Linked DNA regions of Homo sapiens. The protein of the gene in region 3 purifies or fractionates together with the protein of the main gene of each other region. This does not show direct contact. Each region holds a gene or a part of one and is shown on either strand. Other genes may lie near its edges. The genes, in order: ERCC5, BRIP1, SPTA1 and XRCC2.

Evidence for each region.
Region 1: the proteins of SPTA1 (region 3) and ERCC5 purify together in Homo sapiens (affinity purification with western blotting, with the first as the bait; one study listed by BioGRID). This does not show direct contact.
Region 2: the proteins of SPTA1 (region 3) and BRIP1 purify together in Homo sapiens (affinity purification with western blotting; one study listed by BioGRID). This does not show direct contact.
Region 4: the proteins of SPTA1 (region 3) and XRCC2 purify together in Homo sapiens (affinity purification with western blotting, with the first as the bait; one study listed by BioGRID). This does not show direct contact.

Annotation. Positions count from the first base shown.
Region 1 is NC_000013.11:102,872,982-102,880,631, reverse strand, and holds the end of ERCC5 (DNA excision repair protein ERCC-5), read right to left. Parts: intron 7,374-7,650; coding exon 7,289-7,373; intron 5,326-7,288; coding exon 4,729-5,325; 3' UTR 4,637-4,728; downstream 1-4,636. Other genes in the region: BIVM-ERCC5 protein, read right to left, coding at 4,729-5,325, 7,289-7,373. UniProt on the Homo sapiens protein: Single-stranded structure-specific DNA endonuclease involved in DNA excision repair. Makes the 3'incision in DNA nucleotide excision repair (NER).
Region 2 is NC_000017.11:61,677,760-61,685,622, forward strand, and holds the end of BRIP1 (Fanconi anemia group J protein), read right to left. Parts: intron 6,382-7,863; coding exon 5,537-6,381; 3' UTR 1,380-5,536; downstream 1-1,379. UniProt on the Homo sapiens protein: DNA-dependent ATPase and 5'-3' DNA helicase required for the maintenance of chromosomal stability. Acts late in the Fanconi anemia pathway, after FANCD2 ubiquitination.
Region 3 is NC_000001.11:158,676,660-158,684,577, reverse strand, and holds part of SPTA1 (spectrin alpha chain, erythrocytic 1), read left to right. Parts: intron 1-1,081; coding exon 1,082-1,207; intron 1,208-2,910; coding exon 2,911-3,051; intron 3,052-3,848; coding exon 3,849-3,995; intron 3,996-6,043; coding exon 6,044-6,177; intron 6,178-6,743; coding exon 6,744-6,888; intron 6,889-7,918.
Region 4 is NC_000007.14:152,654,724-152,662,641, forward strand, and holds part of XRCC2 (DNA repair protein XRCC2), read right to left. Parts: intron 6,060-7,918; coding exon 5,978-6,059; intron 1-5,977. UniProt on the Homo sapiens protein: Involved in the homologous recombination repair (HRR) pathway of double-stranded DNA, thought to repair chromosomal fragmentation, translocations and deletions. Part of the RAD51 paralog protein complex BCDX2 which acts in the BRCA1-BRCA2-dependent HR pathway.

The DNA.
Region 1 (7,650 bases), on a different chromosome or scaffold from region 3:
CGATATATTTAAAACTGAAGAAACTATTTATGCCTCTTGAATAGAGCAGATTATCTGAATAAATTTAACAGTTATTCAAACTTTAGAAAATAACGATTTGATATTTTACTTCTCAATCTGGGGTAAAATAACAATTGCAGTACCATGAATTAATATAGCACTCCTTTCTTCCGAGAATCCCAAAGCACATTTTACAGCCACCACATTTTCTTTTACAGCATACTTCAGCAAGTTAGAAGACATTATTTTCCCTACAGTTTGCAAATCAGGAAAACCAAGGTTAAATTATGTCATTGAGGCTACACAGCTAAAACGATAGCAAAAGTGGTCACATGTTTTGCTCCCAATTTAGATCTCTTCCATTAAAGAAAGACATGTCTGCCTTAAGGCTGATATTTAAATGGAAAGCCTGGACATACCTAAAGGAGTTAGCTGAGTTTCTAGAAGGTTAAAATGTATCATCCACAATTTTTGTTTTTGCTGCTGGGACCTCTGGTAGTGACTGAAAGGCTAGCATCGCAGCACAGTTTACTACTATACACACTCGCTACCACTGGTAACGAGTCCAGGCAGAAGGGATTAGGATTCTGACAGCTGCAGCTCCCACGCCTCTGGTTATACAGCAGTGAGACGGCAATGCCCGTAACTAAGGGGGCAGAAGGCTAGGAATATCCCACGAGTGTCTCGTGAACAGAGCTAAAGGTGAATACAACCCACTCCCGGAAGTGAGTGAAGACTATTTGGAGGAAGTGATCCAGCTTTTAACTTGGATGCCAAGAGTTATTCTAAGACTCCGTGGCTATGACATTCTAGGAAATGAACGCTACATATTTTTCATGTCACCTATCTGCATGGGAACACTGTCTTTAGACTCCAACAACCATACTAGAATGTCTGTAGCATTGCTCTGCACCCAGAAATCAAACTACCATGATTCCTTTTTATTCAGACTGAATGGGCAGGCTCCGAACATAGATCCATCTGTGCACCTGCCCAAGTGCATGTATGTGTGCCTCTCAGAGGACATACACATTTCCCATGCCACTGGAAAGATCCCTGATAGAAAGTTACAGAGTTAAGATAAAGCAATATTGGAAAGTTAAACTTAGGAGTGTGACTACAGGTCCATAATGTATACACAGATGAATCGAGGTCACTTTAATGTATTGGAAAGGGCTAGGAGTTGGGAAGCCTGATTTTAGTTATTCCTGCCTATAATTAGATTGTGATTTTAAGCCATTTACTTAGTATGTTTCTTGGTTTCATCATCTATAGAACAAGTATATATCGGCAGGGTGCCTTAGCCTTTGGGAGACCAAGGCAGGAGGACCACTCAGCCCAGGAAATGGAGGCTGCAGTGAGCCGTGGTCACACCACCAAACTCCCGCCTGGGTAGCAGAGCAAGACCCTATCTCAAAAAAATATAAATGTCTTTTAAAAATGATACAAAAGTCATACAACATATATTTGTGGGGTGAATATTATAGGTAAAAACATTCTGGAAAGTTCAAAATCCTAAGCAATGTGAACTATTATTCATAGGCAGTTAACTTGGGGCAGAGGATACTCTTTCTTTGGGGCTTTTTTAAAAACAAAATAAATGACGAATAAAAACCATTGTCTTTTTTAAGGATTTTTTTGAAAGATCATGCAATCCTCACTGTTAGATCTCTTAAGAGGCAGAATCCCTCAATCAAGCATCTTAACCAACATGACTGTTTAACAAATACATACAGACTTCTGCCTCCAGCTGTAAGTAGCTTATAGCAAACCTCAGCTTCTATTAACAATGAGAAAAATAGATTTTTAAACACACACACACACCCCACACAAACATGCCTCTGTTATAAAGTATCAGAGAGCTGTCAAGGCAGCCAAGAATTCCAGGCATTGCTGTTTCCTGAGGAAGCCAAAGAGAAGACCGCATGTAAGGATAGCAGCGGAGCATCAGGCAATCTCACAGAACTGTGGAGACAAAAGAAGAGTGTGGCTGCCAAGACAGTCAGATTTGTGGGCCCAAGATCCCAGAAAAAAGGGAGAGAGAAGCCTGACGCTTAGTGCTGACTATTCAGTCGAAGAATTGACTGATTAAGCTGTTTAGGGCAAGAGGCTAATTTTTGAAGCATTCAGTGGCAAAAGCAGATCCAAGCGCAAAAGAAGAAACATCAGGGCACTCCTGGAAAGTGACTTTCCTGGAATACGGGTGAAACTAGAAGCTGGAGTCTTACAGAAAAAACTGCAAACTAGCCTTCAATCTACTTTGTCCTCGCTGGCTGCACTGAGGTGATCTTCCCCTCTGCTGCCTGTCCAAATACATTCTGGAATCCTCTCTAGAGGAAGGTACAGGGTACCTATAATTTTTCCCATAGACTGTCCAACATTCAGTTAAAATTTACCCATGCATACCAAGAAACAGACAATAGAAATAAACTCATAGGTGACTTAGATATTGGAGTTATTCGACAGACTTTAAAGTAACTGTGATTAAGATACTCAAAAACAGATGACAAGAAGTACACCAGGGAACTGGAATCTATAAAAATGAGTCAAATTGAAAAAAAAAAAGAGTCAAATAAAACTGAAAAATAACAATCAATGAAATAAAATACTCAATATATGGGTTTAACAGCAAGTATAGATAAAGCTAAACAAAATATTAATGAGCTGGAAGATAATCGAAAAGGCGTATGATGGTCATCATCCTAAATAAGCTCTAGGTACACCAACTTGATGTGAATAATAAAGAATTTGTTCAGCTGCTGATTATTTTAAACAGGCAACCTCTTTCATAGGTAAAATAGCACCCTGGAATTTTGAGTTAGAAGATTTTGGTTCAGGTGAGAAGTTTTACCTACTACATGGGTGAATTTGGCAAAACTGGTTAATGTCTCTAAACGTGTTTCTCCCCTTGTAAAAGCATTATGTCTTGGTCACAGGGTTAAGAGAAAAAGAAGATACAATATCAAACTCTCATATAAATAGTGTTACAGAACAGGTTTCTCATGGTCCTGACCATCCATTTCCCCTTCTGCTTGCCCTGGACTTTGGTTCTTTCCCCTTCTGGCAGGATGCAATGCAGATGAAGTAATCACCCAGTATAGACCACTCAGGCAAGATAGCACCCTAGGGGTTGGCTGAACACAGGACTGCATGACCTCATGGTGCACAACTGCTTCACCAGCTCAGACTGGCCAGACTGTTGAGTAAGAGAGAAGTAATGTTCTAGCTTATTCAGACCACTGTATATGAGCATCTTTTGTTACAGTAGCTTATCCTTTCCCAAAGCTAACGCAGTGAAAAACAAATGTAAATATCTATTAAAGGCATCAAATTAAATTTGTTAGCAAGACAATTATTCTACCTGCAAATATATATGCAGAAAACTCCCAGTGACAAGTAATTCTGAGAAATGAGAAAAACACGAAAAAGTTAATTTTCCCCTCCCCTTGCCTCCAAAAATGTTCTGCTCCAAGTACCTCCAGAGAAAAGAAGCATGAAGAAAAGATTTGAGTTTATGTGGAAATCATTGTTGACTTTAGAAGGAGCTGCTAGAGAAGAATGATGGATGCAGAAGACGTATTTGAAATTAGGAAAAAATAGTGTGCAAAGAAAAGCAGCTGCTGTAGTCCAAGTACTGGAGAAGTTTGGCTGGCCAAGTCAATATAAATGAGAGCCTAAAAAACAACACATCTAGGAGTCGTTCAAAGACTGCTGGAGATTATCTATTTGGATTTTGTTTTCATTGGTGAAGATTTTCAATTTGAAGGCTGAAGGAAAAAGTCAGGAAAGATGGAAATACTAAAGATGCCAAAAGGACACAGACTTGGGAAGGTAGCTCTGAAGGCAGAGGACCCACGCTCAAAGTAATTGGTAGTACTCTCCTCCAATCATTCTTAACTCGAAGCAAATAGGAGCTTGGGGGTTGTTCTTGGGAGACGTCTCCACAGGAGCAGTCTTAAAATAACCTTCTTTGTCCACTCTGAACAAACACTGTGTCAACAACAATCATCCCCTGCAGGCCACTCCTAAAGCTGACCCACCTACACCAGTTCAACTCCAGCCCCCAGCCTCCAAATCCATTTACACAGAAGTCAGCTTCTAATAAGTGAAGTCTGGTTTAAAAGCCAAACATAACGGTACAGAGGTTCCCATACACTTAATGTTCACAGGTAGAATGATGCACCCCATTTAGGTTTCCTAATTGTTTGCTAAAACCACAGCAAACATATTGAAATATGTTCCAGCAGTGAGGCTCCCTCCTGCTATGCTTTTAAGTGGAACCTGAGGGAAAATGCAAAGCCGTGGGCAGCAGGGCTAAACAGTTGTGTAAAACTGCCACTATTGTGGAATTAGAAACATGCACGTATTTCTTCTCAGCTACGTCTGAATGTCAGAGGGAAAGCCTATTGAGAGTGAGTGCTGATCAATAGAAATCTTTTTCGCTTTTTTAACATGTGACCAGGAAGGATCAGACATTGTTAAGATAATGAAAACATGAAAAGACAAAGCCTGTGAATACAAGATAATATCCAATGATACTTGAAATATTCAGCTAAAAAATACTAGAAAAGTAAAACATTAAAAAACAAATGTCAGATTTAGCATTTGTTTTTAGGAACCACACACTAAATACAAAGACCGTGCCACCAGTTAATTTTATTACGTCTTTGCGACAAATTCATTACAAATGGCTGTCATAACTAATTATAGAGGATACATATTTTTTAATTAGGTTTTCCTTTTTCTTCCCCTCGCACGTCTTAGTTTCCTTCTTTTCTTCCCAAACACAGATCTGGCGGTCACGAGGACCATCTTCTCTTTCCCTCCATCGTCATCACTATCACTAGAGCTGCTGGTGGTCGCACCTCCATTCTTCACGGGAGCTTCCTTCACTGAGTTCTGCGAATCTGAAGCACTGGTTTTTGGCTCTTTCGCAGCTGTTCTCCTTTGTACATTCATTAAAGATGAACTTTCAGCATCTTCACTTGAAGATCCATCAGATGATTCTGAGAGGCAGGTCTCCCCCAAAAATCCACCGCATGTATTCTTTCCTTTAGAATCTGAAAGCCTCTTTCTTTTCAGGCTTGATGACTCTTCTAAGGTATTTGTTATGCCTCTCTTCTGGGTTTTTCCTTTTGCCTTATCAAGTAGCTCAAATTCTTTCTCCATGGCAACAGAAACTGCTTCTATTTCGCTGGCTGCTGCTTCTTTCTCTTTCCTTAGCATACATGTCACAGCTCTGTTTAGTCTCTGGCTCTTAATACGTTTAGCATCTTCTTTCTCCTGTTGTGCTAATCTAAAGAAGGAATCAATTCGGAGCTGTGTCTAAAAAAATAACAAAAGAATAATAATAATAAATCAGACAAGTAAGTCAAGTTTCTAAACCAAATCAACAAGCTCAACCTTGATCACTCACATTGGATTACTATGTCAGAGAATATTAATTCATTATCTCCCAAAACCCAGTTCTCTCCCAGTGAATTACTGACAGTAATTTTCACTTTCTAAATCATACCTAAAGCAGTACTTGTACCATCTCTGTCAACTAAGTCTTTAGTCCACATCTCAAATGAGAAATCTCTTCCTAAGATATTCAAAGAGCGTTAAATATTTTTCTGTAGCTAAACATTTCATCTTCCTCAGGAGCAACACGACTTCATGGGGCCTGTTTCTAAGTCCTACTATATCTTTCTTTTAAAAACATTATCATCATACAATACCTTTGAGAGGCAAGTTCACAGTATATATTAGCAACTGTAAGAAATATTCATGCCTTTTATTCAGTAAATTCACTTTTAAGAAGATATTCTTTGGCCGGGCATGGTGGCTCACGCCTGTAACCCCAGCACTCTGGGAGGCCGAGGTGGGTGGATCACGAGGTCAGATCGAGACCATTCTGGCTTACACGGTGAAACCCCGTCTCTACTAAAAAAATACAAAACATTAGCCAGGCGTGGTGGCGGGCGCCTGTAGTCCCAGCTACTCGGGAGGCTGAGGCAGGAGAATGGCGTGAACCCGGGAGGCGGAGCTTGCAGTGAGCCGAGTTCTCACCACTGCACTCCAGCCTGGGAGACAGAGTGAGACTCCGTCTCAAAAAAAAAATATATGGGTAAAGCTATATGCCTAATGTTCATCACAGCATTACTATAACAAACTTGAAAATTAAAGGTCTAACAAGTAAACTGAACTAATTATTTAAATATCTTTCATGAAATATAATCTAGTCATCTGGAATTAAGAAAACCACACAATACATAGAAGAAAATATGCTAATAAGTTGGGGGGGAGGATTAGATCTATTAAGTTACATTTAGTATGGCCACAAATAAATGCAGGAAAATTTTTTAACCTAAATGTTAACAACTGTATTAGAGGAGGTAACTAATGAGTAGTTTTAATTCATTTTCTTCATTTTCTAATTTTGGAAAAATAAACACATTAAGTTTTAGAATGAAAAAGGAGATAAATATTACAACAAAATTTATCTGAAATTAAGAAATCACCAGACACTAAGACAAATAGCTTTCCTTTTTGGTTGGTTTATAATGTTTCCAGTAGATAGTCATCCAAAAAACAAAGAGAAACTCATAGAAATGCTGTCTTAGTTTTGTTCATGTTTTTCAAAATTATCCAAGCCTAATGAAAATGGGTTTAATTTAAATATATTATCACAAAAGCTACATTCTCATTTCTGCTAAGTGGTTTATTTGTATGTATGTTTTGTGGGTTGTTTCTAGTGTGGGCGAAAGCTTGTTTTGTGTGAGTCAGAACATACTCACAGATAAAGCAAGAAGTAGGTACCTAGAGGAACTAAAGGTCATACAAAAGGGCTCCTTCCCACAAAAACCTCTCCTACTGATACACAATAATGACTGAACTTCTACCTTTCAAGATTCGTTTATAGAATTTAAAAATATTAGTACTTATAAAAACTTAAATGATCAGAATTGCTTTGAAGACTTCCTTTCGTTAAAAAATGAAAGTAAATCCCAAGGGGTAATGTATTTAATCAGAAACACCTTAGTGTGAAATCAGTTATTAGACTGGTTTTTTCAAAGAAAAAAATGAATATGAAAGGACTCCAAAGTTCAGCCCTAAGAGTGATCATAGAAAATGAAGCCAAAGTCTAACTTTTCTTTTTCTATTTTCTTCTATTCTCTCATCTAAATTATCCTAATTTCAAAATGTCTGCTCTATGCCCCAAAATAAGAGTTAACTGGTCTTTAACAGCTGTCAACCACAGCCTACCCTTCATCCTGAACTTAGGAGAAGGGTCCACCATGATTACCTGCTGGGCATCGAGTTGCTTTAATACAGGAAACAGAGATTCATCTGTCTTCGTTCTGTTCCAGCCGAAATACCGCTGACAAAATATGCATGCAGTTAAGACTTATAAATATTTTGAAAGATATTTAAACAAGTGACAAATAAAAAGGTCCAAAGAACCCATTCTTGATTCCATTCCCTGTATCTCCTAAGATTTTCCTATTTATAAAGATTAGAGTGCTAAAAGAAAGTACTAACAAAATAAATGACTCCAGCATAATCATCTGGCACTATGTTCTTTTCAATTCTATAAAATAAAACATATTTAGCTCTCACTTTAGGACATCAAAGACTTGTGACTATGAAAAAAGGTTAACTGGAATA
Region 2 (7,863 bases), on a different chromosome or scaffold from region 3:
CAATGAGAACACTTGGACACAGGGTGGGGAACATCACACACTGGGGCCTGTCTGGGGGTGGGGGTCTGGGGGAGGGATAGCTTAGGAGTAATACCTAATGTAAATGATGAGTTGATGGGTGCAGCAAACCAGCATGGCACATGTATACCTATGTAACAAACCTGCACGTTGTGCACATATACCCTAGAACTTAAAGTATAATAAAAATAAATTAATTAAAAAAATAAAAATACAGGAAAAAAAAGAAAAACAGGGAAAATATACGAAGACAATACTGCATCTAAAATAATAACAAACAGTACTAAATACTTTTAAAACTTTTCAACTATATGTGAATCATATATAAAAGATAATGGCACCTAGTTTACAGAAATGGTATGCCTCTTGTACAATTTTGTGTTTTATAATAGCAAGGAGCCAAATCAAACTTTAATATTGAATTCTATAAATATTAATGTAAAATATTTTCATGTGAAATGATGAAATTTTGGGGAAAGCGTTAAGATAATCAAAATAATATAAATTCCCGAATAAAGGAAGACTGAGCCAAGAAAATACAAAGTTATTATAAAATGTACTAAAATATCTATCTAATTATGCCTTGTTACACATTCCTTTTAATCAGTATTTACCATTGGGTTTTCAAAGGTTAATTTCTGGGAACAGTAAATTTCATATAGCTTTTGTTTTCTTTCCAATACATTGACGCTTGTTTATTACAGAGTGGAATTTGGTGTAAGATGGGTTGTTTTGGACCTGGTCCAAGAGGGTTTAGTTACTGAAAGCACCTCATTATAAGGTAGTCTTACCAATAAGGTGATCTGCTGGCTCAGATCCCATGTATATTATAACAAGGCTCCATTGTGGAGTACAGGAAGCCAGGCAGCTAATGGTTCTATCAAATGAAACTTAAGAAACAAAATTCTTTTTTTTTTTTTTTGAGACATGAAAATTGTTTAAGGCTAGAGGATCATAAGCCTTGGTCACTTTTCCAAATTTCTATTTCCTGATGTTCTTTATTGTATTTTTCATAGCTCTGCAGTTATTTTACGTTAAGGTTTTAGCTTTCTTACATTCATTGCTTGATCTGGTCTTAAAATTTTTTTTGATTATCATCAATACTATCTATTTACAAAAGATTAACTGCATTTACCTATGGAAATAGATAATAAACCACCAAGAATTCATAAAGGTTAAATTCTTGTGTAACTCATTGAGAAATCAGCGTTTAAAAGAGCATATGCGAGAATAATTGTGTGGTAATCAAATACAAAAGAATGCCATCACTTAGAGATGACCATGATAACCAGCCTTTCAAGTGATTTGACAACAGGTGCTTTGATTTCATGAAATTTTGTAAGCAGCCCTAAAGAATTAAATATTTTAAATGCGTTTTAATATAGGAAAGTAATACAAAAAAGTCCAGTTGCAGAAAAATAACGGGGAAAAGCTTTTTGTTAAAATTAATGTTTTGAATAGAAAGATCTTAACAACAAAGCCTTATAGAAACTTAGAAACAGTGCCAAATTTAAACCCATGTAATAACTAAGTGCATAGAAACATAGTAATAGTTTTATAACACAATTCTAGACAGTTTTAAATAATTTAATCAAGTCATGAAACATCTACTCTTTACATTGTACCTTTATTCCAAGAATAAAGCCCTGTCTCTAACTGGTAGTTTTCCTGGTTTGCAGCCTGTGTGCTCTATATACTTTCAGTCCTTGAATAAATTCAGTATTAGATAATTATTTCATATGCATTGAATGTGTCACATAAATTATTTGATAAACAATCTCTACCTTATACATCTCAAAAGCTTAAAAAATAAGCCAGCCAAATAATTTTTCTTTCCTCAAATCTTTATTGTCAGTCTATCACCTATATATCTATAGTTAGGGAAGCTTTCATATAGAGCAAGGGTGCACTCCAGATATATGATTCATCTACTAATTAATAATGAATAACTTGCAATGTGCCAGGTGCTCTTTTAAAAGCATTTAGATGTTTTAACTTATTTAAATCTGTAAACATTTCTTTTAAAAGTATGTTATCAGTAATGAAAATGGCCTACATCCTACTCTATAAAGGCCAGTAGTTTACTTCTTGGAATATCATCTTGGTCAGTCATGATCTGAGGAGAATATACACCTGTTTCAACAGTGATTATCATTGTATAAAATTTTTGAAACACCTTTTGGAATTACTAAAGGGTTGTGACACATCTCTATGTACATTCTCAGTAATGAAAATTTTTAACTTCAGGGAGAATTAAATTTTGGAAAGAATAAAAAATATCTAGGCCAGGCATGGTGGCTCACGCCTGTAATCCCAACACTTTGGGAGGCCGAGGTGGGCAGATCACTTGAGGTCAGGAGTTTGAGACCAGCCTGGCCAACATGGTGAAACCCTGTCGATACTTAAAAAAAAAAAAAAAAAAAAATTAGCTGGGTGCAGTGGTGTACACCTGTAATCCCAGCTACGCAGGAGGCTGAGACATGAGAATCGCTTTAACCTGCGAGGCAGAGGTTGCAGTGAGCCAAGATCGTGCCTTTGCACTCCAGCCTGAGCGACAGAGCAAGACTGTCTAAAACAAACAAACAAAAACATATCTAGCTAGGGAAAGGGGAAAGTATTGGAGATGAAGTTGGGTAATAACACTAAGATATGAATAATATGCTTAATTTTCTCATGTAGTTTACCAATTCTAAAGGTAATTTCTTTTTTTTTTTTTTTTTGAGACGGAGTCCCGCTCTGTCGCCCAGGCTGGAGTGCAGTGGCGCAATCTCGGCTCACTGCAAGCTCCACCTCCCGGGTTCACGCCATTCTCCTGCCTCAGCCTCCTGAGTAGCTGGGACTACAGGCGCCCGCCACCACGCCTGGCTAATTTTTTGTATTTTTAGTAGAGACGGGGTTTCACCGTGTTAACCAGGATGGTCTCGATCTCCTGACCTCGTGATCCGCCCGCCTCGGCCTCCCAAAGTGCTGGGATTACAGGCGTGAGCCACCGCGCCTGGCCCTAAAGGTAATTTTAAAAGTCCTCAAAATGTTTTAATTGTAGCATTGCGAAAATAAATATCTAGCTTTCCAAGTTATTATGCACATATACCATCTGTGTCAGTCTGTTCTCATGCTGCTAATAAAGTCATACCCAAGACTGGGTAATTTATAAAGGAAAGAGGTTTAATTGACTCACAGTTCTGCATGACTGAGGAGGCCTCAAGAAACTTACAATCATGGCGGAAGGCAACTTTTCACAGGGCAGCAGGAGAGAAGAATGAGAGTGAAGCAGGGAAAAGCTCCTTATAAAATCATCAGGTCTCATAAGAACTCAGTATCACGAGAACCGCATGAGGGTAACCGCCCCCACGATTCAATTACCTCCCACTGGGTCCTTCCCACAACACGTCGGGATTATGGGAACTACAATTCAAGATGAGATCTGGCTGGGGACATAGCCAAACCACGTCACCATCGTTCCCTAAATGTAAATGAGTAAGAGCCACTTTACTTTTTAAATGAAATAATATGCTTTATTTTAACCGTTCTGGAACAAAAGCAAATGAAAATCGACTCAGAATATCAACAGACATTCCTTTATAGATTCTCAAAGCACAAAGAAATTTGTATGATTTTATAGTACTAACCGCTGCATTTTACAGATGAAACTAATTCCCTGAAGGGTGTGGTGATTGCCAATATGACTTAGCAAATCAGTGGCAGAGCCAGGTGTAGAGCCCAAGTCTCTTGTCTTCTACCAGGTATTTATTCGTTTCACTACCCTACTATCCCTATCTGTGGTTTAAGAATAATACCAGAGGAGATAAATTGTTTCACCCTTTCAAAACAATGTAAAAATTACCTTCTAATCGAGTATTTGGTATTTACTGCTCAATGATCAACTAGAAAAAATATATAATACTAGATGGGATCTAATATATTCTAAATTCTTTAACTGGTAACTTGTCAATTTAAATGTCTTTGAACTACGCTTAGAGTTGTAACATCAAATGCTATAGAAACAGGCTGTAAAAATCTAAATGTCTCAAAATGGAAGCAAAGACATACCTATATAATGATTCATTTATCCAAATGAAATGTAAAGTAAATCCTTACTGGAAATTTTGACTTGAAAATAATAGACCATACAGAATTCTTGGATAGCTCATAAAATTTCAATTCAAATTACTCACAAAAAGTCCCAATGCCCAGTGAATAACAGATGTTTCTTAAAAAGAGATCAATGAATGTATTTTTGGAATGATGTCAGAGATGAGCCTCTTTTATAATCATTTTTGATTAGACATATAGCTTCATTCACAAAAACACAAACAAGGTCAAAATTCACAGAAAGGATTACTGTGCCCTAAGGAAACATATTTTAGCTGCAGCTATAAATGTGGGTTTGCTTATCAAATTTATATATGAAGTTTTCTATCTTAATCATTGTATAACTAAAGCTTATGCTAGAACAATACCAGAGGGGATAAATTGTTTCACCCTTTCTAAACAATGTAGAAATTACCTTCTAGTCTAGTGTTTGGTACTTATTACTCACTGATCCACTAGGAAAAATATATAATACTAAGCAGGATCTAGTATTTTTTTCCACAATGATGGTGAAGCTAAATAATTAGAATAGAAAATTTGGAATACTTCATTTGGCATTTTATATCTTTACGTCAATTTGTTTATGACATGTTTGGTTTTAGGTTTATTATACAAAGAATGTAAAACAATTTCAATTAAAAATGCATACTACTTTCTTAATTTCTCTTAATTACTTATAAGTAGGCAGTTTAATAACGAAATAAACCTTTCAAGACAAATGGTGATCTCTGAAAAAGTCTTGGACTGATTTGAGGTAAAATCTATAGCGAAATATGACTGAGGTGTCACTAGATTAGACTGCTGTTAATTTTTATGTATCAGTGTGAAAACAAATGGATGAAGAGAACCACCTAATATGAATATTTACGTGAAACTAGAAGTGCCCTAGGATCTTTGAATAATTTTAAATTGCATTTAGCTAAGGAAGACTTATTTGAGGACAGTACTTTGTATGAATTACTTTATCAAAACTCAAGAATGGGCCAGGCACTGTGGCTCACACCTGTAATCCCAGCAACTTAGGGAGGCAGAGAAGGGCAGATCACGAGGCCAGGAGTTCGAGACCAGCCTGGCCAACATGGTGAAACCCCATCTCTACTAAAAATACAAAAACTAGCTGGGCATGGTGGTGCACACCTGTAGTCCCAGCTACTCAGAAGGCTGAGGCAGGAGAATCACTTGAACCTGGAGGTGAAGGTTGCAGTGAGCCCAGAGCACACCACTGCATTCCAGCCTGGGCAACAGACCAAGACTCTGTCTCAAAAAAAAAAACCCAAAAACTCAAGAATAATAACATTTACATTTCTGAACATAAAATAGTTTTTTAAAAAGTATGCCACTTATTCAATTTACAAATTATTACTTACAACAGAGTTTAACATAAGCATGATGACATATTTTTACTTAGCTTGAGAGTTAAGTATTATTACTTAAAACCAGGAAACATGCCTTTATTTTTGGAAGGAGATGGTTTAAAGTTCTTTATTTCTATTTCATGAGTTTTTCCCAGTTCCAGTTCATTTATCCAAGTTGTTTTTACATTACCATCAATGTCATCAATTTTACTTTCTTCAATATGCAGAATTCCATTCAACTTTGTATCTATGCAATCCTCAGCTTTCACTTCTCTGGCTGAATCTACTTCTTTTATAGTTCTAATTTCAAAAAGGTCTTTAGCTAAAATGCAATCTGAATTGTTAGCCAATCTATTTCCTCTATCAGTTTCAGCTAGGTCATTTTTTTCTTCATCTGTATCTTCAGGATCATAAAGTTCAGGTGTAAAATAGATAGATTCATCTTCTGCTTCTGTTTCAAAATCTCTATTTGAAGTGGACTGTTTATCTTCTTCACTTACTAGAGACAATTCAATGTCTGGATCCAGGGCTTCTTCAGAACAGAGCGGATGTTCAGAATGATTTTTTCTAGTAAGGGTGGCATCAATCTTTAATGATGAAATAATGGTTTCTGATTGAGGGCATGATCCAAACGATGTGTTTACTGTCAGATTTGAGGATTCACATTTATCAGTGAAGGGCAAAACAGTTTTACTTTCCATCTTCTCTGTTTTGAAACGGGGAGGACTAGAGGCACTATTCTCTGATGACCCGAGCTCAGGTGTTGCCTTCGGTATTTTACCAGTAAAATACTGTCCCAAAGAATTAAAGCTTGACCAGCTAACTCTCTTTGTTTGTTTGTTGAAAGTTGGGCTTGTGGATCTGGAAATCACAATTTTTTCTGCTTTCCCTGCTTCTTCCAGGAATACTGGATCATCTAAGAATACAAGAATTTAAGAGATTTAACTTTCTGCTCCTAGCTAACATAATTGCTAGGTTAAAATAATTATTTATTAGAAATACCTAAATAACTGTATAGGATACATAACTTAGAGCCCCCAACGAATACTAGTGGATTTTCATCTTGGAACAGAATATTAACTCTGAAAGAAATCTTAGGTCTCTAATGTTTCCTAGCCCAAGTTATAATGCTGTCTGGTAAACTATCAAATTCCACAGCAGGGAGCTCAAGAATGAATGAGGAAAGAAGGGGTAAAAGGGAAGAGGAAGGGAGCTGAGGAAAGGAGGGAACAGGCTGTAAACATTTGCCTTGAAAATCCACTAACCAGTGACTGAGAAAAACTTACCTAGACTAATTCTTTTATTTAATAAATAAGGAAAGTGACATAAGGCTAAGTTATTTGCTCAAAGTTATAAAACTGGTTAGTAAGAAGACCAAGACTAGAAACTAGGTTTCCTGATTACCAAGTTAATCGGCTTGAATTCACTATTTATAGTGAATTTTGTATTACTATTTTGTAGTATTTATATACAAAATTGTATTACTATTTTGTAGTACTTATATACTACAAAATACATGTTTAAAAATTGATGTTTTTCTTTTTTTTAGTCCGAGTTTTGCTTTTGTTGCCCAGGCTGGAGTGCAATGGCGCAATCCTGGCTCACTGCAACCTCCACCTCCCAGTTCAAGCAATTCTCCTGCCTCAGCCTCCTGAGTAGCTGGGATTACAGACAGCTGCCTCCACACCCAGCTAATTTTTGTATTTTTTTAGTAGAGACGGTGTTTCACCACACTGGTCAGGCTGGTCTCGGACTCCTGACCTCGGATGATCCACCCGCCTTGGATATATGAATTAAAACAACTGAAATTATATCCAATGGAATAGACCAGAGTTTGGCAAACCTTTTCTGTCATAGGCCAGATAGTAATATTTAGGCTTTGTGGAGCATAATGTATCTGTTGCGACTACTCAATTATGCTGTTCTAGTGCAATACACACAAATACTCAACTCTGCTGTTGTTTCTAAAATGTAAATAAATGGGCATGACTACATTTCATTAAACTTTATTTACAAAAACAGGCAGCAGGCCAAATTTGGCCCATGGGCCACAGTTTGCCAATCTGATACAGATGATTATTTCAAAATATTTTAAAATATTATTTTTCATCACTTAAAATAAATGTCTCTCACCTCCTAAAAATAAGTTCATAAGAACTATCTATATAGGAAAAGTAGTTCATATAGAAGTATCTACATAAAAATTAGGCCAAATTTTTATATAGCCTTTAGAATAACATCTACCACTTACATGGTACTTTACAATGCTGTGATATTTATAATTTTGACCTTTACAACCCAACCTGAAGGGATAGCTAGGCAGGCATTTTTTTTTTCCTATTACGACTCAAAAAGGACAAATGACTTGCTCATGATCACAAAGCTAGTAAGTGGCAAA
Region 3 (7,918 bases):
TAAATAGTCCATGTCTTCATCTTCATAAACATCGGGGTGTTATTTGCAAAGGAGATTTATTCTGTATAGAATTTGATGGTTACAATACTCATCTGAAATTGACCTACAGGCAAAACAGCAACTGCAAATTCAAGAAATTTCTGACAAACCATGTGATTTTTGATATTTTGGGACATTAAGAAGGGAAATAGGGTGAAGAGTCATCAATGCTTCTGAAGCAACTGTCCTCCACTCTTCTCAGAAATATAAGAGTTAACCAGGTTAACTAAAATCCAATTTAGTTAACCTGGTTAACTCAATTGCTATTCATGGCTCTTAAGTTTTTCCTAAAATGTTGTTCATGGGTCTCAAGTTCTAATGAGAGGTTTCAGTAGAAGTTTGGTGAAAGCTCCTACGCGTTTCTGATCACCTAAAATTATAGCATGTGATACCTGTTCTCTACTCTTCTCAGAGAGATGAGTTAACCAGAGTTTTTTTTTTTTCTTCCCTAAATTGCTATTCATGGCTCTTAACTTCAAAAGAGAGGTTTCAGTAGAAGAAATTTGGTGAAAGTGCCTACCCCTTTCTATTCACCTAAAATTATAGCATGTGGTGTTGTCATAATCAGAAGCAATTGATGTTGGACAGGAAACACCTAGAACAAGAGCAAAATAATGTGCTATATTGAATGGATCAATTTATAGATTACAAGAACAGGCACAGCATGCAAAAAAAACTCTCAATTTTTTTTTTTAAAAACCATTATTATAACTATCATCTTTCTCATTGTGCTCTACTTCCAAAAAAAAATCAGTTATTCCTCTTTTCTGATGAGGAAGGACACTGTGTGTTACACTCTTTTATTCCTATGGCAGTCTATTGAGCCTTTAAAATAAGGCTCGGCATAGATCATAAGGCTCAGCATAGCTCAGGACAGTATTTACTGAAAACTTCCTAAAGCCAGTGGGGACAGGAAAATACTCTTTATGGCCTCTGAGTCTGGGACCCTTTGAGAACCTGTGTTTGGTGGCTTTACATAGAGTGAACATTTCCCATGAAGACTGTGCTTCATTAGACAAAAACTCTGATTTCTAAACTTTAGGGGAAATATCAGAAGCATCAATCCCTTGAAGCAGAGGTGCAAACAAAATCAAGACTCATGTCTGAACTGGAAAAAACAAGGGAAGAACGATTTACCATGGGTCATTCTGCCCACGAAGAAACGAAGGTATATGTATGGGCCCTTGAAGAAGTTTCCAATTATTGATTATGTTATCAGGGTTTTAACTGATTATATGAGATATAAACCTTGAGTGGCTGGCTTATACCCAGGACTCCTGCCTCTTATCTTCCCCTGGGGTTGAGGCATAAAAAATGATGGGATATCTTCGTGTTTCTTGGGGTGAAGAGAGCTGTGATATTAAAGCTGTCATTAAATGGCATAAAATTCCTCCTATAACAGTGCAGGATAATTTGGCTCAAGATCAAGCCCACTTAAACCTGTTCCACATTATCCAGATCAATTAGTTTTTTCCAATGTTCTTTCTAATTATTTCCTCTAACCTCAATGTCCTTGTCTCTTAACTTCTCCAAATAAGGAATGCTCTCTCATTTGAATGTTTTCCAAAATATTTTTCCTTTGTCTATGATGCCTCTTTCTTTTCATACACCATACCCTATGACTACTATTGCACCTCTCCAAACTGTCCCTTCTTATTACTTCTAAAAACTCCCAAATGTCATGTAGTCAGAAAATTTTCTCTGAACATCTAGAAATGAAGATCATCACTATTTCAATAAGGATTCATACTCTGTAATCTATTATTAATGTAACAGCTATTTTTGGACTTAATCTACGAACTCTTCCAAATGTTTGTGCTAATATTGTCAATTCAATTTTTTTGTGTGTGAGTGAACTTTTTACTGTTTATGTATTTTTTTAATTGTCAAAACAAATTTGCATTATATATCTTAAAACTGGGTCTGGCCTTTCTATATATAGCATAAAAATTCTAGCCCATTCTGTCATCAAAATATGGTCAACGGACACAGATTTTAGCCAGAATAGAATCTTATTTTAAAGAAGAACCCATAAAAGGAAAATTTCAAAACTTGTTTATTTGTATAAAGTATAATTAACTTTTGTATTATGCACAGTTTTGCATGTAACCAGCATCTACATTAATTACAATATTTGAGAAATGTTTGAAACATCTTCATTTCTGTCAGAATCACTGGGGCTATAGCAAATGGTACCATTGCGGGGTTTAACGACATATGTGGTCCACATGCTACCCAGAGCAATGGAGTAGTTGAAAAATATAAGATTCTTGAAGATATGACATAGGTGGCAATTTCAGTTATATAAGACAGGTAATACATAATGTTCTGAGTTAATCTGGCATTCAAAGCCCTCTGTAGATTCTCAAACTGTATAGTCCCAAAACACTGTTATTGTTTCGGTGCCAATGATTTCCTTATAACTTATAAAAATTATAGCTCTCACACTTTCTGGCAGACAATTCATGCTAAGTTTCTCCTATGCCTTTGCTATTGCTGTTTGCTCTTCTTAGAACATGTTATGCTTATGATTGACCTGTCAAAAATCTTTCTGCTCCATAAGGCTCAGTTCAAATGAACACTTTTCCATGCTTTCTTCCTCCTTCCCATCTTATTGTTTGTAATTATTCCATCCTTTAAAACTGCAAAGCATTTTTACAAATTGTTCTCTTATGTAAGATCGCATTTGGCTTGGCTTGTTAGCTATTTCCATATATCTATCCTATTTCCTCTTTTAAATGTTTGTTGAGCAACTAATGCATGAGTAACTGAGAGAAGAATTTTTATCCAGGTCTCTTTCTGCACAAGTCTCTGAGTGTTTCCCTGCTCCCAGTGTCTGTGGCTGAGTGGTTTTGCCCCTCTTTCCTAAAGGCCCATATAGAGGAGCTACGCCACCTGTGGGACCTGCTGTTAGAGCTGACCCTGGAGAAGGGTGACCAGTTGCTGCGGGCCCTGAAGTTCCAGCAGTATGTACAGGAGTGTGCTGACATCTTAGAGTGGATTGGAGACAAGGTATCGAACTTAAAACAGCAATCACACAGGGCCTCCCACTCCTCTGTCCCAGGTACCCCATAGCAAATTACTGCAGACTACTCACAAGGAAGTCAGGATGTCTGTTCCTGGCTTTGTTCTTTGGAACAAGAGGAAATTGGGGCCAAAATGTAGGGGTATCTGGAGGTCAACATTGTATGGAAGTAAGTCTTAACATATGGATCTGAATATGAAAAAGGCAAGACTTACACAAAGACCATGCATTGAAAGATAATTAGGCTCATCTCTCTTCCACTTCCATGATTTTTAACTCCTTCTCCTATGTTTTTGCTCTTACTCTGGGGTCTGGCTGAGAGTATTGACAGCTCTTTCTCTAATCCTTTGTGTCTCAGTGCCTATAAAGATGGAGGGTTTTATTTTTCTAAATACTAAAGGAATAATTTAATAGTTAGGACTAAAGATTTAGATAAGCAAATGCCTAACAAAATACTTTCGTAGATACTGATATGTTGAATTGAGTAGAAACAGGATGAATTTATCCCTCATGTTTCAAAACACAAAAGGGTACTTTCAGGGTCTCTTGCCAGTAATGCCACAAACTTGCTAAAGAACTGCCCGAAAGAGCACTTTCCCTTGTGCCAAGGTGCTACCTTAACAAATATACTTCTGCTGCTGGCCTTTTCCAGGAGAGCTTCTCCCAGTCTCCCCCAGTATCTCCATTTGAGTTATCCTGGGAATGCAAGCAGGAGTTTTGAGTTTTTGACCTACAGAAACTCCTAAATGTTTGCTGGCAACTCAATCAACTTCTGTGTCTACAGGAGGCTATAGCGACATCAGTGGAGCTAGGTGAAGACTGGGAGCGCACCGAAGTTCTGCATAAGAAATTTGAAGACTTCCAAGTGGAGCTGGTAGCTAAAGAAGGGAGAGTTGTTGAAGTGAACCAATATGCCAATGAGTGTGCCGAGGTGAGGTGGGAGCAAAATATTCACTCCGTGCAAAGGGTTCTTATCCTTAAGAATAACTTCTGGCCATTAGTAGATGGATATGAAGGAGATGGGGCATTGTGAGAAAACAGAGGTTGGCATGTTCCTGGAGTAACATATTCTGAACAGTTTCCTCTCCCCTCTGGACCCACCCCTTACAAGTCTATTGAAATGGAGGGTTGAGAGAGAAAGAGAGAGTGTGTTTTTGTGTGTTTGGAGAAATTAAATACACAATGGGCAGTGAAGCTATTGCCATTTATATAGTAGCTTCTGTACCATGCAGTACACTGATTACTCATGTTAATGGGGCACTCTTTCTTCATGAAAAAACACAAAAATAAAGTAGCAGAGCATATAAAATAATGTTGAGCTATCATTATTTATACATATATATGCATATGTAATATCATTATACAAGATTATTTCGGAGGATTGAGGAAGGAAAGGAAGCGGTTTTACTTTTATTTACTTAAGAAAATACTTAAGTTTGTGATGTGTATATATATATAAGTTTACATGTATATGTAAGTATATAGATGTAAAATAAATAAACTCCAACAGTTGGCTATATTTTGCTTTTCCATTTATAGTTTCATTATGATTGCAGCTCTATAGTGAGAATGATTTTCCTGACTTAATAAAAAGAAGACTTCAGAATGAATGAGTGCTGGAGTAGGAAAAATAACCTATGTTTTCCTATTTTTCTTTCAGGCCATATTTCCAGTAGTTTCTAAATTTTCTACCTCCATCACTTTTCTCTTGCTGTGGAAGTTTTTCATTTATCTATTACTGTCTAACCAATCAACAAACTTAACATCTTACTTGTTAATGACTCTGTGAATCAGATGATTGAGCTGCTCTGCTGGGCTGTTTTCCTGATCTTACCTGGCATTTTTATGTGTCTGAAGTGATCAGGTGGCTCAGCTGGGGTGAAGGATCTAAGGTGGCCTCAATCCCATGTCTAGGGCCCTGGTGAGGATGATTTGGGAGGATTGAGGAGATCTCTGGGTGACCTCTCATCATGCAGTAGACCATGCTTCTTACATACCAGTGTTACAAGAGTGTGAGAATAGAAAATGAAAGTTTTCTTGAGGCCTAGGTGCTGGAACTCATAGAAAATTACTTCTGCTACTTTCTATCAGTAAGCAAGTTAAAGACCATCCAAGATCCAAGACTTGAGGAAACATACTCTACCTTTTGAAGGGATGAGCAGCAAAATAGCATGCGATTTTTTCCAATCTATCATAGAAAGAATAAATCCAACACAGCTAGGTTATATTCTGTGCTCTCGAGTGGGGCCTACACTGCTGTAATAGAAAGAACCATGTACTTGAGAAGGAGAATGGAGAAAATTCTGTCTGGAGAGACTTGGGAATGGGAATGAAAATGGAGAGAAACAGGGACAGGAAGAGTAAGGAGACTTAGGCATATGGGAATGCCTCAAAATTGCAAAGTATGAAAATAGACTGATGCTTCCAGCTTAATCTAGTATTCACAGATCTCACTACTTTGGATGGTTTGCAAAAATGCCTGAAATTTTATGCAAAATCATACGTGAAAGCACGTGTCTATAATTCTGGGAAGAGAAAAATAGCTTTTATTGGATTCTCAAAGGTGTGAGGACCACAAAAAAGTTAAGACCCACAGCACTAGTCTTTGAGAAAATTAAGTTGTATTTCATAAAAGGAATTTCCTCTTCTTTTCCTTGGTTTCCAGGATTTCAAGGAGATCTCAAGCATTGACAAGGTGGAGCTCTAAAAATAACATCAGGGCTGGGCAACCTGTGCTAATAGGCTAGTCCACTGCTGTGGGCACAGATGCAACATCTGGCAGGTTGTTTTTCTAGGTTTTGGTAGTGTGCATCAAGTTGGAGCTAGGGAGGAGGGCTATGATGAAGTTCAGTGTCTGGCTACAATGGTCAGTTTTCACTTCTGTAAAAGTATGAACTAATGTAAAATGAAAAGTGTTTGAATAATTTTTTAAATATAATCTCATCTCTGTATAACTCCAGTGTTGTTTTCCTTCAACAGGAAAACCATCCTGACCTACCCTTAATTCAGTCTAAGCAAAATGAGGTGAATGCTGCCTGGGAGCGCCTTCGTGGTTTGGCTCTCCAGAGACAGAAAGCTCTGTCCAATGCTGCAAACTTACAACGATTCAAAAGGTATGGATCTGGCCACTGCTTTATAGAAAACTTTGAAGTGCTTTATAAAAACCGTGTCTTTGTATTAGGCTCTTTCTACTTCTGTTAGCAATTAATGGTCAACACTTCAAACAAAAGTGGATCATGTACTTGCCTTTGGGACAGCAAAGGAGAAGGTAAAGAAATCTGTGACCTACTCTATGGCCAAGGATGTAGAGATTGGAGATCAAAATAACTAAAAAAGTAGCATTGGTAATTTAGGAATGGAAGCGCTGCAGACGGAAGGGAAGCAGGTTAATAATTAAATGGAAGGTGGAGTTAGGAAGAAGAAAAGCATTCGTAAGGAGCTGACCCAGATATGGAACATATCTCTAGAGGCTCAGCTGTCAAGAAGCCCAGGACCTTAACATCTCAATAGAAATAACCATTAAGTAAGAACATTTTATATTACTTTTTGCTAGTATGTAGGAAGAAAGGATAATTGCTCCTGGGTCAACTAGGATGGTCCTTGCTGTGAGTTCTGTTGGACCGTTTGCCCTGTAATGCTTGCTATCTTCTTTGGTTGGAGCTCTTGTTAATGACTGCAGGGATGTGACTGAAGCCATCCAGTGGATCAAGGAGAAGGAACCTGTACTCACCTCTGAGGACTATGGCAAAGACCTTGTTGCCTCTGAAGGACTGTTTCACAGTCACAAGGGACTTGAGAGAAATCTTGCTGTCATGAGTGACAAGGTAATGCGCTGTTAGAGAAATGGCTAACCCGTTGAGCTAGAAGAGGCAATTGTTGATTATCTTGCCTATTACCGTGCCTCCAGAGAGCACAATAAGTTCACTGTTTTCAATGAAGAAGAAATTGTGTGCACTTGAATACGCTTCTTCATTCTAGTTCATAACTCGTATGTGGATACTGGATATACCTTATTTTCATTTGAATTATTTTTATTTAAATATACACATATGTTTTATATTCTCTTGTGTTTTCCTAACTTATTTCACAATTTAAAAACAAAACAAATATACCTTCAAGGTTGATTCCTAATCTCACTGAGTAAAATACACCGTGGCCAGACTCTACCCTTTCATCTAACCACATTTTGTTCTGTTGCAGCTGAATCCTGATTCTTTTTGTACTCAGTAGATCAGAAAAACATTGTCTTCTCCTTTTAAAATAAACTTCAAGACACTTAATGCTAAACCTACCTTTAGGTTTCCTTTTAAAACCTGGAAAACCTCAGGCACACTAGAACTTAGAACAAGCCTATTTTCTTAAATGATTTCCATCCTTTACTTCTTCCCCTCACAAATGTAGCCAGAACGTAAACCAATTACTACTGAGAGTGCACAGGGGAGTCAGCCCACAGAAAGATCCACATTTGCTGTAATTTAATTTTAGGCCTGTCCCTGTGTCCAGTTTCTGCAAACTTCCACCATTCTACTTTTTCTTTCATTCTTCCTTTTTGTTGTTGTTGTTGTTTTTGGTCTTTTTCCCTAATAATGAATAATAAAACCCATAAGTTGACAAATAATGGTATGGAAATTCCAATCCCTAGACATCATCTGATTATAGTTGAGTATGATGAAAGGGCTAATAACATGTGAAAACCCACCCATATCCACATTTTGCCCTAGTAACCCTGCTCCTCAGAGGTTGTGCTGAAAATTATCCAGCATTACTGAAATTTTCTTGGCCTTGTGGACAGAAATGTCTTTCTGCCTCCCACAGTAATATTTAGGGAAATGTTATAGAGGGGTGGGGAAGGAA
Region 4 (7,918 bases), on a different chromosome or scaffold from region 3:
GCAAAGAAGTTGAAGGTTAAATCCCTGCCTAAGAGATACTCTTTTTCTTTTACACATTAATAGCAAAGCAGGTATAAAAAAGGCTTTTATAACAACCGGGAAGACACTGCAAACTTGCAAGAGACACATGAATTATCATTAAGGTCCTTGAACTAAATTCCTCACAAATATGTTTAATGATGAACTGAAATCAGTTTTACTGATTTTATAAACATTTACTGTTTGATCCTCAAGATCAAAACCTGTAATCAAATATTATGTCCTACAGAAGGGACATCATCCTTTTCAATGTACTTGAAGTCACCGTCTCATATGTTTCTGTGGCTGCTACAGCATCCTTGTCCAGCCAAATTATGGAACGTGACAACTCGCAGTAAAAAAATCCCTAAGGTTTGGCACTTGAAGATATTAAACTAAATCAGAAAATCTGGATGATTTGGCCTTGACAGTTCCTCTTACAAATAGAACGCTGTAAGGAGTTTGGGTAACAGATTGTCAGAAAGAGTTCTGAATCTAAAGATCCTTCAAAATAAGGAAAAGAAAGGAAAAGCCAAAAAAGCTATCATCTTGGTACCAGCCTACCAATTATATAACAAATATGTTGAATTTGCAGATTATAATCATTATAGAAGTAAAGAAGTAATGAATTGGTACATGGTACTGAATAACTCCTATCCAAAAAAGCATTAAAAATATGTTTACAGGTTGGGCGTGGTGGTTCACGCCCATAATCCCAGCACTTTGGGAGGCTGAGGTGGGCAGATGGCTTGAGCCCAGGAGTTCAAGACCATCCTGGGCAACATGGCAAAACTCCATCTCTACAAAATACACAAAAATTAGTCTGGTGTGGTGGCACACATCTGTGGTCCCAGCTATTCAGGAGGCAGAGGTGCGAGGATCACCTGAGCCCGGGGGTTGGTCGAGGCTGCAGCGAGCCGTCACGGCGCCACTGCACTCCAGCCTGGGCAACAAGAGTGAGACCCTGTCTCAAAAAGAAAAGTTTGGCACTGGGCACAATGGCTCATGCCTGTAATCTCAGCACTTTGGGAGGCTGACACAGGTGGATCACTTGAGGTCAGGAGTTCAAGACCAGCCTGGCCAACATGTTGGAACCCTGTCTCTACTAAAAATACAAAAAATTTGCTGGGCATGGTAGCATCTGCCTGTAATTCCAGCTATTTGGGAGGCTGAGGTTGCAGTGAGCCGAGATCGAGCTGCACTCCAGCCTGGGTGACAGAGTGAGACTCTGTGTCAAAACAAAACAAAACAAAAATAAAAATAAATGTTTGGATGAGAACACATGGACACAGGGAGGGGAACAACAGACACCGGGGCCTGCTGAAGGCATGAGGGGAGGGAGCGCGTCAGGACAAATAGCCAGGACAAGTAACCTAGGTGATGGGTTGATAGGCGCAGCCAACCACCATGGCACGCGTTTATCTATATAACAAACCTTCACGTTCTACACATGTATCCTAGAATTTAAAATTAAATTAAAATAAATTTTAAAAAATGTTCGGATGGGTGCAGTGGCTCACACCTGTAATCCCAGCATTTTGGGAGGCCAAGGTGGGTGGATTCCCTGAGGTTGGGTGTTCGAGACCAGCCTGGCCAATATGGTGAAACCCCATCTCTACTAAAAATACAGATGAGACAGAGCAAGACTCTATCTCAAAAAAAAAGTTTACAATGGCATTGAGACTCTATAACCCCTAAATCTTACTACTTCAACTTAAGCTTTTCTGTAACAAGCTCTGATAAACTTCTATTGTTGATAAATAATCTTTATAATCCCAGTCTTCTATCTGCTATTGTTCCAATGGAATACTCATCTAACTAGTTTTACAGCTATAGGATCTTCAGTAGTTTTCAGTAAACTTTTTTGTTAGTTACTGAACATGATGGTGTTTTTCAACGTTTCTATAATATAATATTCTAATGTAGAAGTTGTTCCACAAACCCATTTTAACATATTGTCAGTTTCATAAGGCTCACCTTAATAATATCCTTCCTTACAGAGAGAGTACAAAGACCATTCTGTTTTTTGTCTTACATATTTGATCAAAATTTGTGTTTTATTATGGAGAATTTTGGTTAGCAAATCTGCTGTACAAAAAATACTAAAGGGAGTCCTGCAGGCTGAATGAAAGGACACAGTTCCTGAAATCCAAATGAGAAAATAAAGAGCACAGGGAAATGTAACTATCTAGGCAAATATAAAAGACAGTACAGGCCAGGTATGGTGGCTCACCTCTGTAATCCCAACACTTTGGGAGGCCAAGGTGGGCGAATCACCTGAGGTCAGGAGTTCAAGAGCAGCCTGGCCAACGTGGTGAAACCCCGTCTCTACTAAAAACAAAAAATTAGCCAGGTGTGGTAGCACACACCTGTAGTCCCAGGTACTGGGGAGGCTGAGGCAGGAGAATCACTTGAACCCAGGAGGAGGAGGTTGCAGTGAGCCGAGATCACACCACTTCACTCCATCCTGGGCGACAGAGTGAGACTCCATCTAAAAAAAAAAAAAAGATAGTATAAACGTGTTTTTGTATTTGTAACTGTTTTTTCATCTATCTGATTTAAGAAGGAAGTTGTTTTTGCGACAGTCTTGCTCTGTTGCCCAGGCTGGAGTGCAGTGGTGCAATCTCGGCTCACTGCAACCTCTGCCTCCCAGGTCCAAGCAATTCTCCTGTCTCAGCCCCCCGAGTAGCTGGGATTACAGGCACCCGCCATCATGCCCAGCTAATTTTTGTAGAGATGAGGTTTCACCATGTTGGCCAGGCTGGCCTTGAACTTCTGACCTCAGGTGATCCACAGACCTCAGCCTCCCAAAGTGCTGGATTACAGGTGTGAGCCACCGCACCTGGCCAGAAAGTATTCTTAAGTGATCATTTTAATTACTTTAATTCAGTAATAATATTAAATGTGCTGATGACCATACAATGTATAAAGATGTAGGGAATACCTATACAGTAAACAAAGCTTTTTACAAAATATGGAAATTAAGTTTGTATTAATCCAACTAGACTGTTAGAAATTATGATCTTACTTGTAATCCCAGGGCAATCACTAGAAAAATAATTCAGAAAAATATAGTGAAAACAATGACAAGGGAATTAAAATGGTACATTAGAAAATATTTAACACAAAAGAAAACAGTAAAGGAGAAAGAAACAGAAAAGACATAAGACATATATAAAAAACAGACAGCAAAATGCAATCATAAACTTTTTGTCTTTGTTTTTTTTTTTCTTTTTCTTTTTGAGACGGAGTCTTGCTCTGTCACCCAGGCTGGAGTGAAGTGGCGCAATCTCGGCTCATTGCAACTTCCACCTCCCAGGTTCAAGTGATTCTCCTGTCTTGACCTCTCAAGTAGCTGGGATTACAGGCATGAGCCATCACACCTGGGTAATTTTTCTTTTTCTTTTTCTTTTTTTTTTTTGAGGCGGAGTCTCACTCTGTCGCCCAGGCTGGAGTGCAGTGGCACAATCTTGGCTCACTGCAAGCTCACTGAATCCCTCCCGGGTTCATGCCATTCTCCTGCCTCAGCCTCCCGAGTAGCTGGGACTGCAGGCGCCTGCCACCACGCCTGGCTAATTTTTTCTATTTTTAGTAGAGACGGGGTTTCACCATGTCGGCCAGGCTGGTCTCCAACTCCAGACCTCAGGTGATCCACCTACCTTGGCCTCCCAAAGTGCTGGGATTACAGGTGTGAGCCACCGTGCCTGGTCCCTACTTTAACCATTTTTAAGTGTACAGCTCAGCAGTGTGAAGTACATTGACATTGCTGCAAAGCAATGAAGCAGAACTCCACAACTTTTCCATCTTGCAAAACTCCCATTTTGCACCCATTAAACAATGACTCCCTTCCCCCGCCTCCCCAGCTCCTGGTAACTACCATTTTACTTTCTTTTCTGTGAATTTAACTACCTTAGAAACTGCATATAAGTGGAATCAAGCAGTTTGTCTTTTTGTGTCTGGCCTATTTCATTTACCAATGTCCTCAAGGTTCATCCACGTTGTAGCACGTGACAGAATTCTCTTCCTTTGTAAGGCTGAATAATATCAACTGCATGTATATATCACATTTTGTATACACCACTCAACCATTGATGGATACTTTTCCCCCCAGGGATTCATTATAAGCACATTGATGGACATTTAGGTTGGTTTTACCTCTTAGCTATTGTGAATAGTGCTGCTATAAACAAGAGTGTGCAAATATTTCTCCAAGATCCTACTTTCAATTCTTTTGGATGAATACCCAGAAGTGAGATTATGTGATCATATGGTAGCTCTATTTTTAATTGTTTGAGGAACCTCCATACTGTTTTCCATAATGGTCGCACCATTTTACAATCTTACCAACAGTGCAAAAGGGTTACAATTTCTCCACATCCTTGCTAACACTTGCTATTTCCTGTTTTTTTTTTGATAGTAGCCTTCCTAATGGATGTGAGGTGACAAAGAAGAACATTTTATAATGATAAATGGGTCAGCCAGCAATAAGACAAAATAAAAAGTTATATGTGCTTAACAATACATGAAGCCCCAAAATACAAAAGCAAAAAATGATAAAACTCAGGAGAGAAACAGACAATTCAACAATAACAGTTGGATACTTCATTTTTAGTAGAGATGGGGGTTTCACCATATTGGCCAGGCTGGTCTCAAACTCCTGACCTCGTGATCTGCCTGCCTAAGACTCCTAAAGTGCTGGGATTACAGGTGTGAGCCACTGCGCTCGGCTATAACCTGATTTTTTAAATGAGCAAAGGATCTGACGTTTCTTCAAAGATATACAATTTGCCAATAAGCCTGTGCAAAGATACCCAACATCATTGGCCGTGAGGACAATGTAAATCAAAAACCACAAAGAGATAACACTTCATACTGACTAGGATGGCTATTATCAAAAAGACAGACAATAACAATTATTCCCAGAATATGGGAATTGCTGGCAATGCAATGATGGTGCAAGTAAAATGTGAAGCTCCTTTGGAAAACAGTCTGGCAGTTTCTCAAAAGGTTAAATGTAGAATTGCCATATGACCTAGCAATGCCTATCCTAGGTATTATCCGATAGAACTGAAGACATCTATCCACAGAAAAACATGTACACAGATAACCACAGCAGCATTATGCACAACAGCCAGCAAATGGAAACAACCCAAATGTCCATCAGCTAACAAATGGATAAGCAACATGTACACTCATGCAATGAAATATTTAACAAAGAATGAACTACTGATACGTGTTATGAAATGGTGACACTGAATTATACAATTCAGTGCAAATTATTCAAAGTAAAAGAGGCCAGTCACAGAAGATCACATATTACATGATTCCAATTATATGAAATGTCCAGAAAAGGCAAATCCATAGTTAGAAAGTAGATTAGTAGTTGCCTAGAGCTGGGGAACATGGGAGATGATGATTACTAGAAATGAGCTTCTTTACGGGGAGATAAAATGCTCTAAAGTCAGCTGTGGTAACGGTTGCACAACTGTGTAATAACCTAAAAATCACTTAACTGCACACTTCGGTGGGTGAATTTTATCTCTATGAAGCCGCCACATTAAAAGAAAAAAAATCAACCTAAGCGCACGCCCTTAGTAAGTTTTCCCTGTTGTAGAAATACTAACAAGTGGGTACCCAAGGACTTCCCTACAACTCCGCAAGCTTCTAAAGAAAAGGAATTTCAACATAAACTATAATAACAGGACTTGCATAAATATTGTGTGTTGAGAATAAGACAGAGGTCAAGGCATATTCTGAAGATTTACTGCAGAGAAGCAAACTTGTCTGACACCGATGAGGAAAGCTTAAAAGCTTTCTGTCACAACCTGTGTCTCATTTTCCAATTGTACAGTTTAACCTGTATAAACTCTTGTGAGGAGTATGTGTATACATGTGAGCTTATGTGAAAAATCCTTTTATAAAGATTTGCATTTATTTATATAAAGGTTGTATTTTTTACCATGCACAGGTGAATCTTCATCAGCAAACAGATTTGGTTCTATTTCTTTCAAGGAACTTCTACCTTCAAGTCGGGCAAGGAGCTTATAAAAGAAGAGAGAAGGAAAACTCATTATTTAAAAATATAAAATCCTAGACATCTATATTTATACCATTTTCCGAAAGTCTGTAAGATTTCATAACTTTAGGCTGGGTGCTGTGGCTCACACCTGTAATCCCAATACTTTGGGAGGCCAAGGTGGGCAGATCGCTTGAGTCCAGTTTCAGACCAGCCTGGGCGACATGGTGAAACCTGACTCTACAAAAAATACAAAAATTATCTGGGCATGGTGGCACACACTGTAATCCCAGCTACTGAGGAGGCTGAGGTGGGAAGATCACTTGAGTCAAAGAGGCAGAGGTTGCAGCCTGGGTGACAGAGTGAGGCCCTATCTCAAAAAAAATTTTTTTCATAATTTTGTGGATTTGGAAGAAAATATGAAATAGGAAATATAGTTTAGGAGAAATGTTGTGTTTACTTATTTTTCAGATATTTTACTTTTTGTTTATCTACCAAATACTGACAGTATAAAATGAGTCTGTACCCTCAAAGGAATGGATAGTCTAGTTTAGGATATAAGACAAACTGCTATGGCAAAATTTTTACCTTCCTTGTAATTAACTTTCACACAGTTAATTCTTACCACACTTGTTACACAGTTATCTGCCTTCATTTGTCTGCCCCATTCATTGTGAGCTCTTTATTTCACTGGGGAAGGGGACAAAGGAGAAAGGTGGAGGAGAACTTCCTTGAGGAGCCACCACCTGGGCTCTCTCCTAAGTAAGACTGCCAGGTGAATGGGGCACAGGCAGGCCTAGTAGACCTGCTAACAGAAACAGGAGCAGCCACAGTGCAGAGGTTATAAATAGCATTGTGCATAGGGACACTGTGAGCAGCTTTGAACTCCTAGATACTGTAACAGCACCAAACAGGCAGGACCCAGGGAAGCCCTACAAGAGAGCAGAAGTCAGAGCATGGAAGGGCTCAGACGCCATGTTTGGGAGCTTATCTTTGGCTTGTAGACAACAGCCAACAGGTGTGACACTAAGCACTGAGAAGTATTTAGAACATAGTTAAGAGTAGACATTTGGGACCCCAGAGCCAGACCTGCTAGGTCACTGAGGTCCTTAGGCTTCTCATCTGTCAAGTGAGGATAACAAACAGCACCCTCCCTCATAAGGCTGATGAGGATTAAATATGTGAAAAGAGTACCTGGCATATTATCCACTTCTTTTTCTTTTTTGAGGCGGAGTCTTGCCCTGTCGCCCAGGCTGGAGTTCAGTGGTGCGATCTCTGCTCACTGTAACCTCTGCCTTCTGGGCTCAAGTGATTCTCCTGCCTCAGCCTCCTGAGTAGCTGGGATTACAGGCACCCACCACCACGCCCGGCTAATTTTTGTATTTTTAGTAGAGACAAGGTTTCACCATGTTGGGGCAGGCTGGTTTCAAACTCCTGACCTCAAATGATCCGCTCCCATCGGCCTCCCAATCTGCTGGGATTACAGGCGTGAGCCACCGCGCCCAGCCTATCTGCATTTCAAACAGATCATCTTGGTGGTTACTAGGGGACAGATGTGAGGAGAGTTAAAACCATACGTGGAGAGAGGGCTGGGGTTTGTCACCCTAGTCTGGAGGAGGAGTGTCTGCACCATGACGGAAGTCATTAGGATCACAGGGGGCAATCTCGGTGAAGGATTTAACTGTCACAAGGGAGACAAAACTGATTCTCAAGTTTCTTGGGAATCAGCACAGATTTGACAACCCTTCTATATGACAAAAGAAAAAAAAATCTATCACAAATGGGAAGAAAGTCACCTTTTATTTGCATTTTTTTTTTTTTTTTTTTTTTTTTGAGACGGAGTCTCGCTCTGTCGCCCAGGCTGGAGTGCAGTGGCGGGATCTC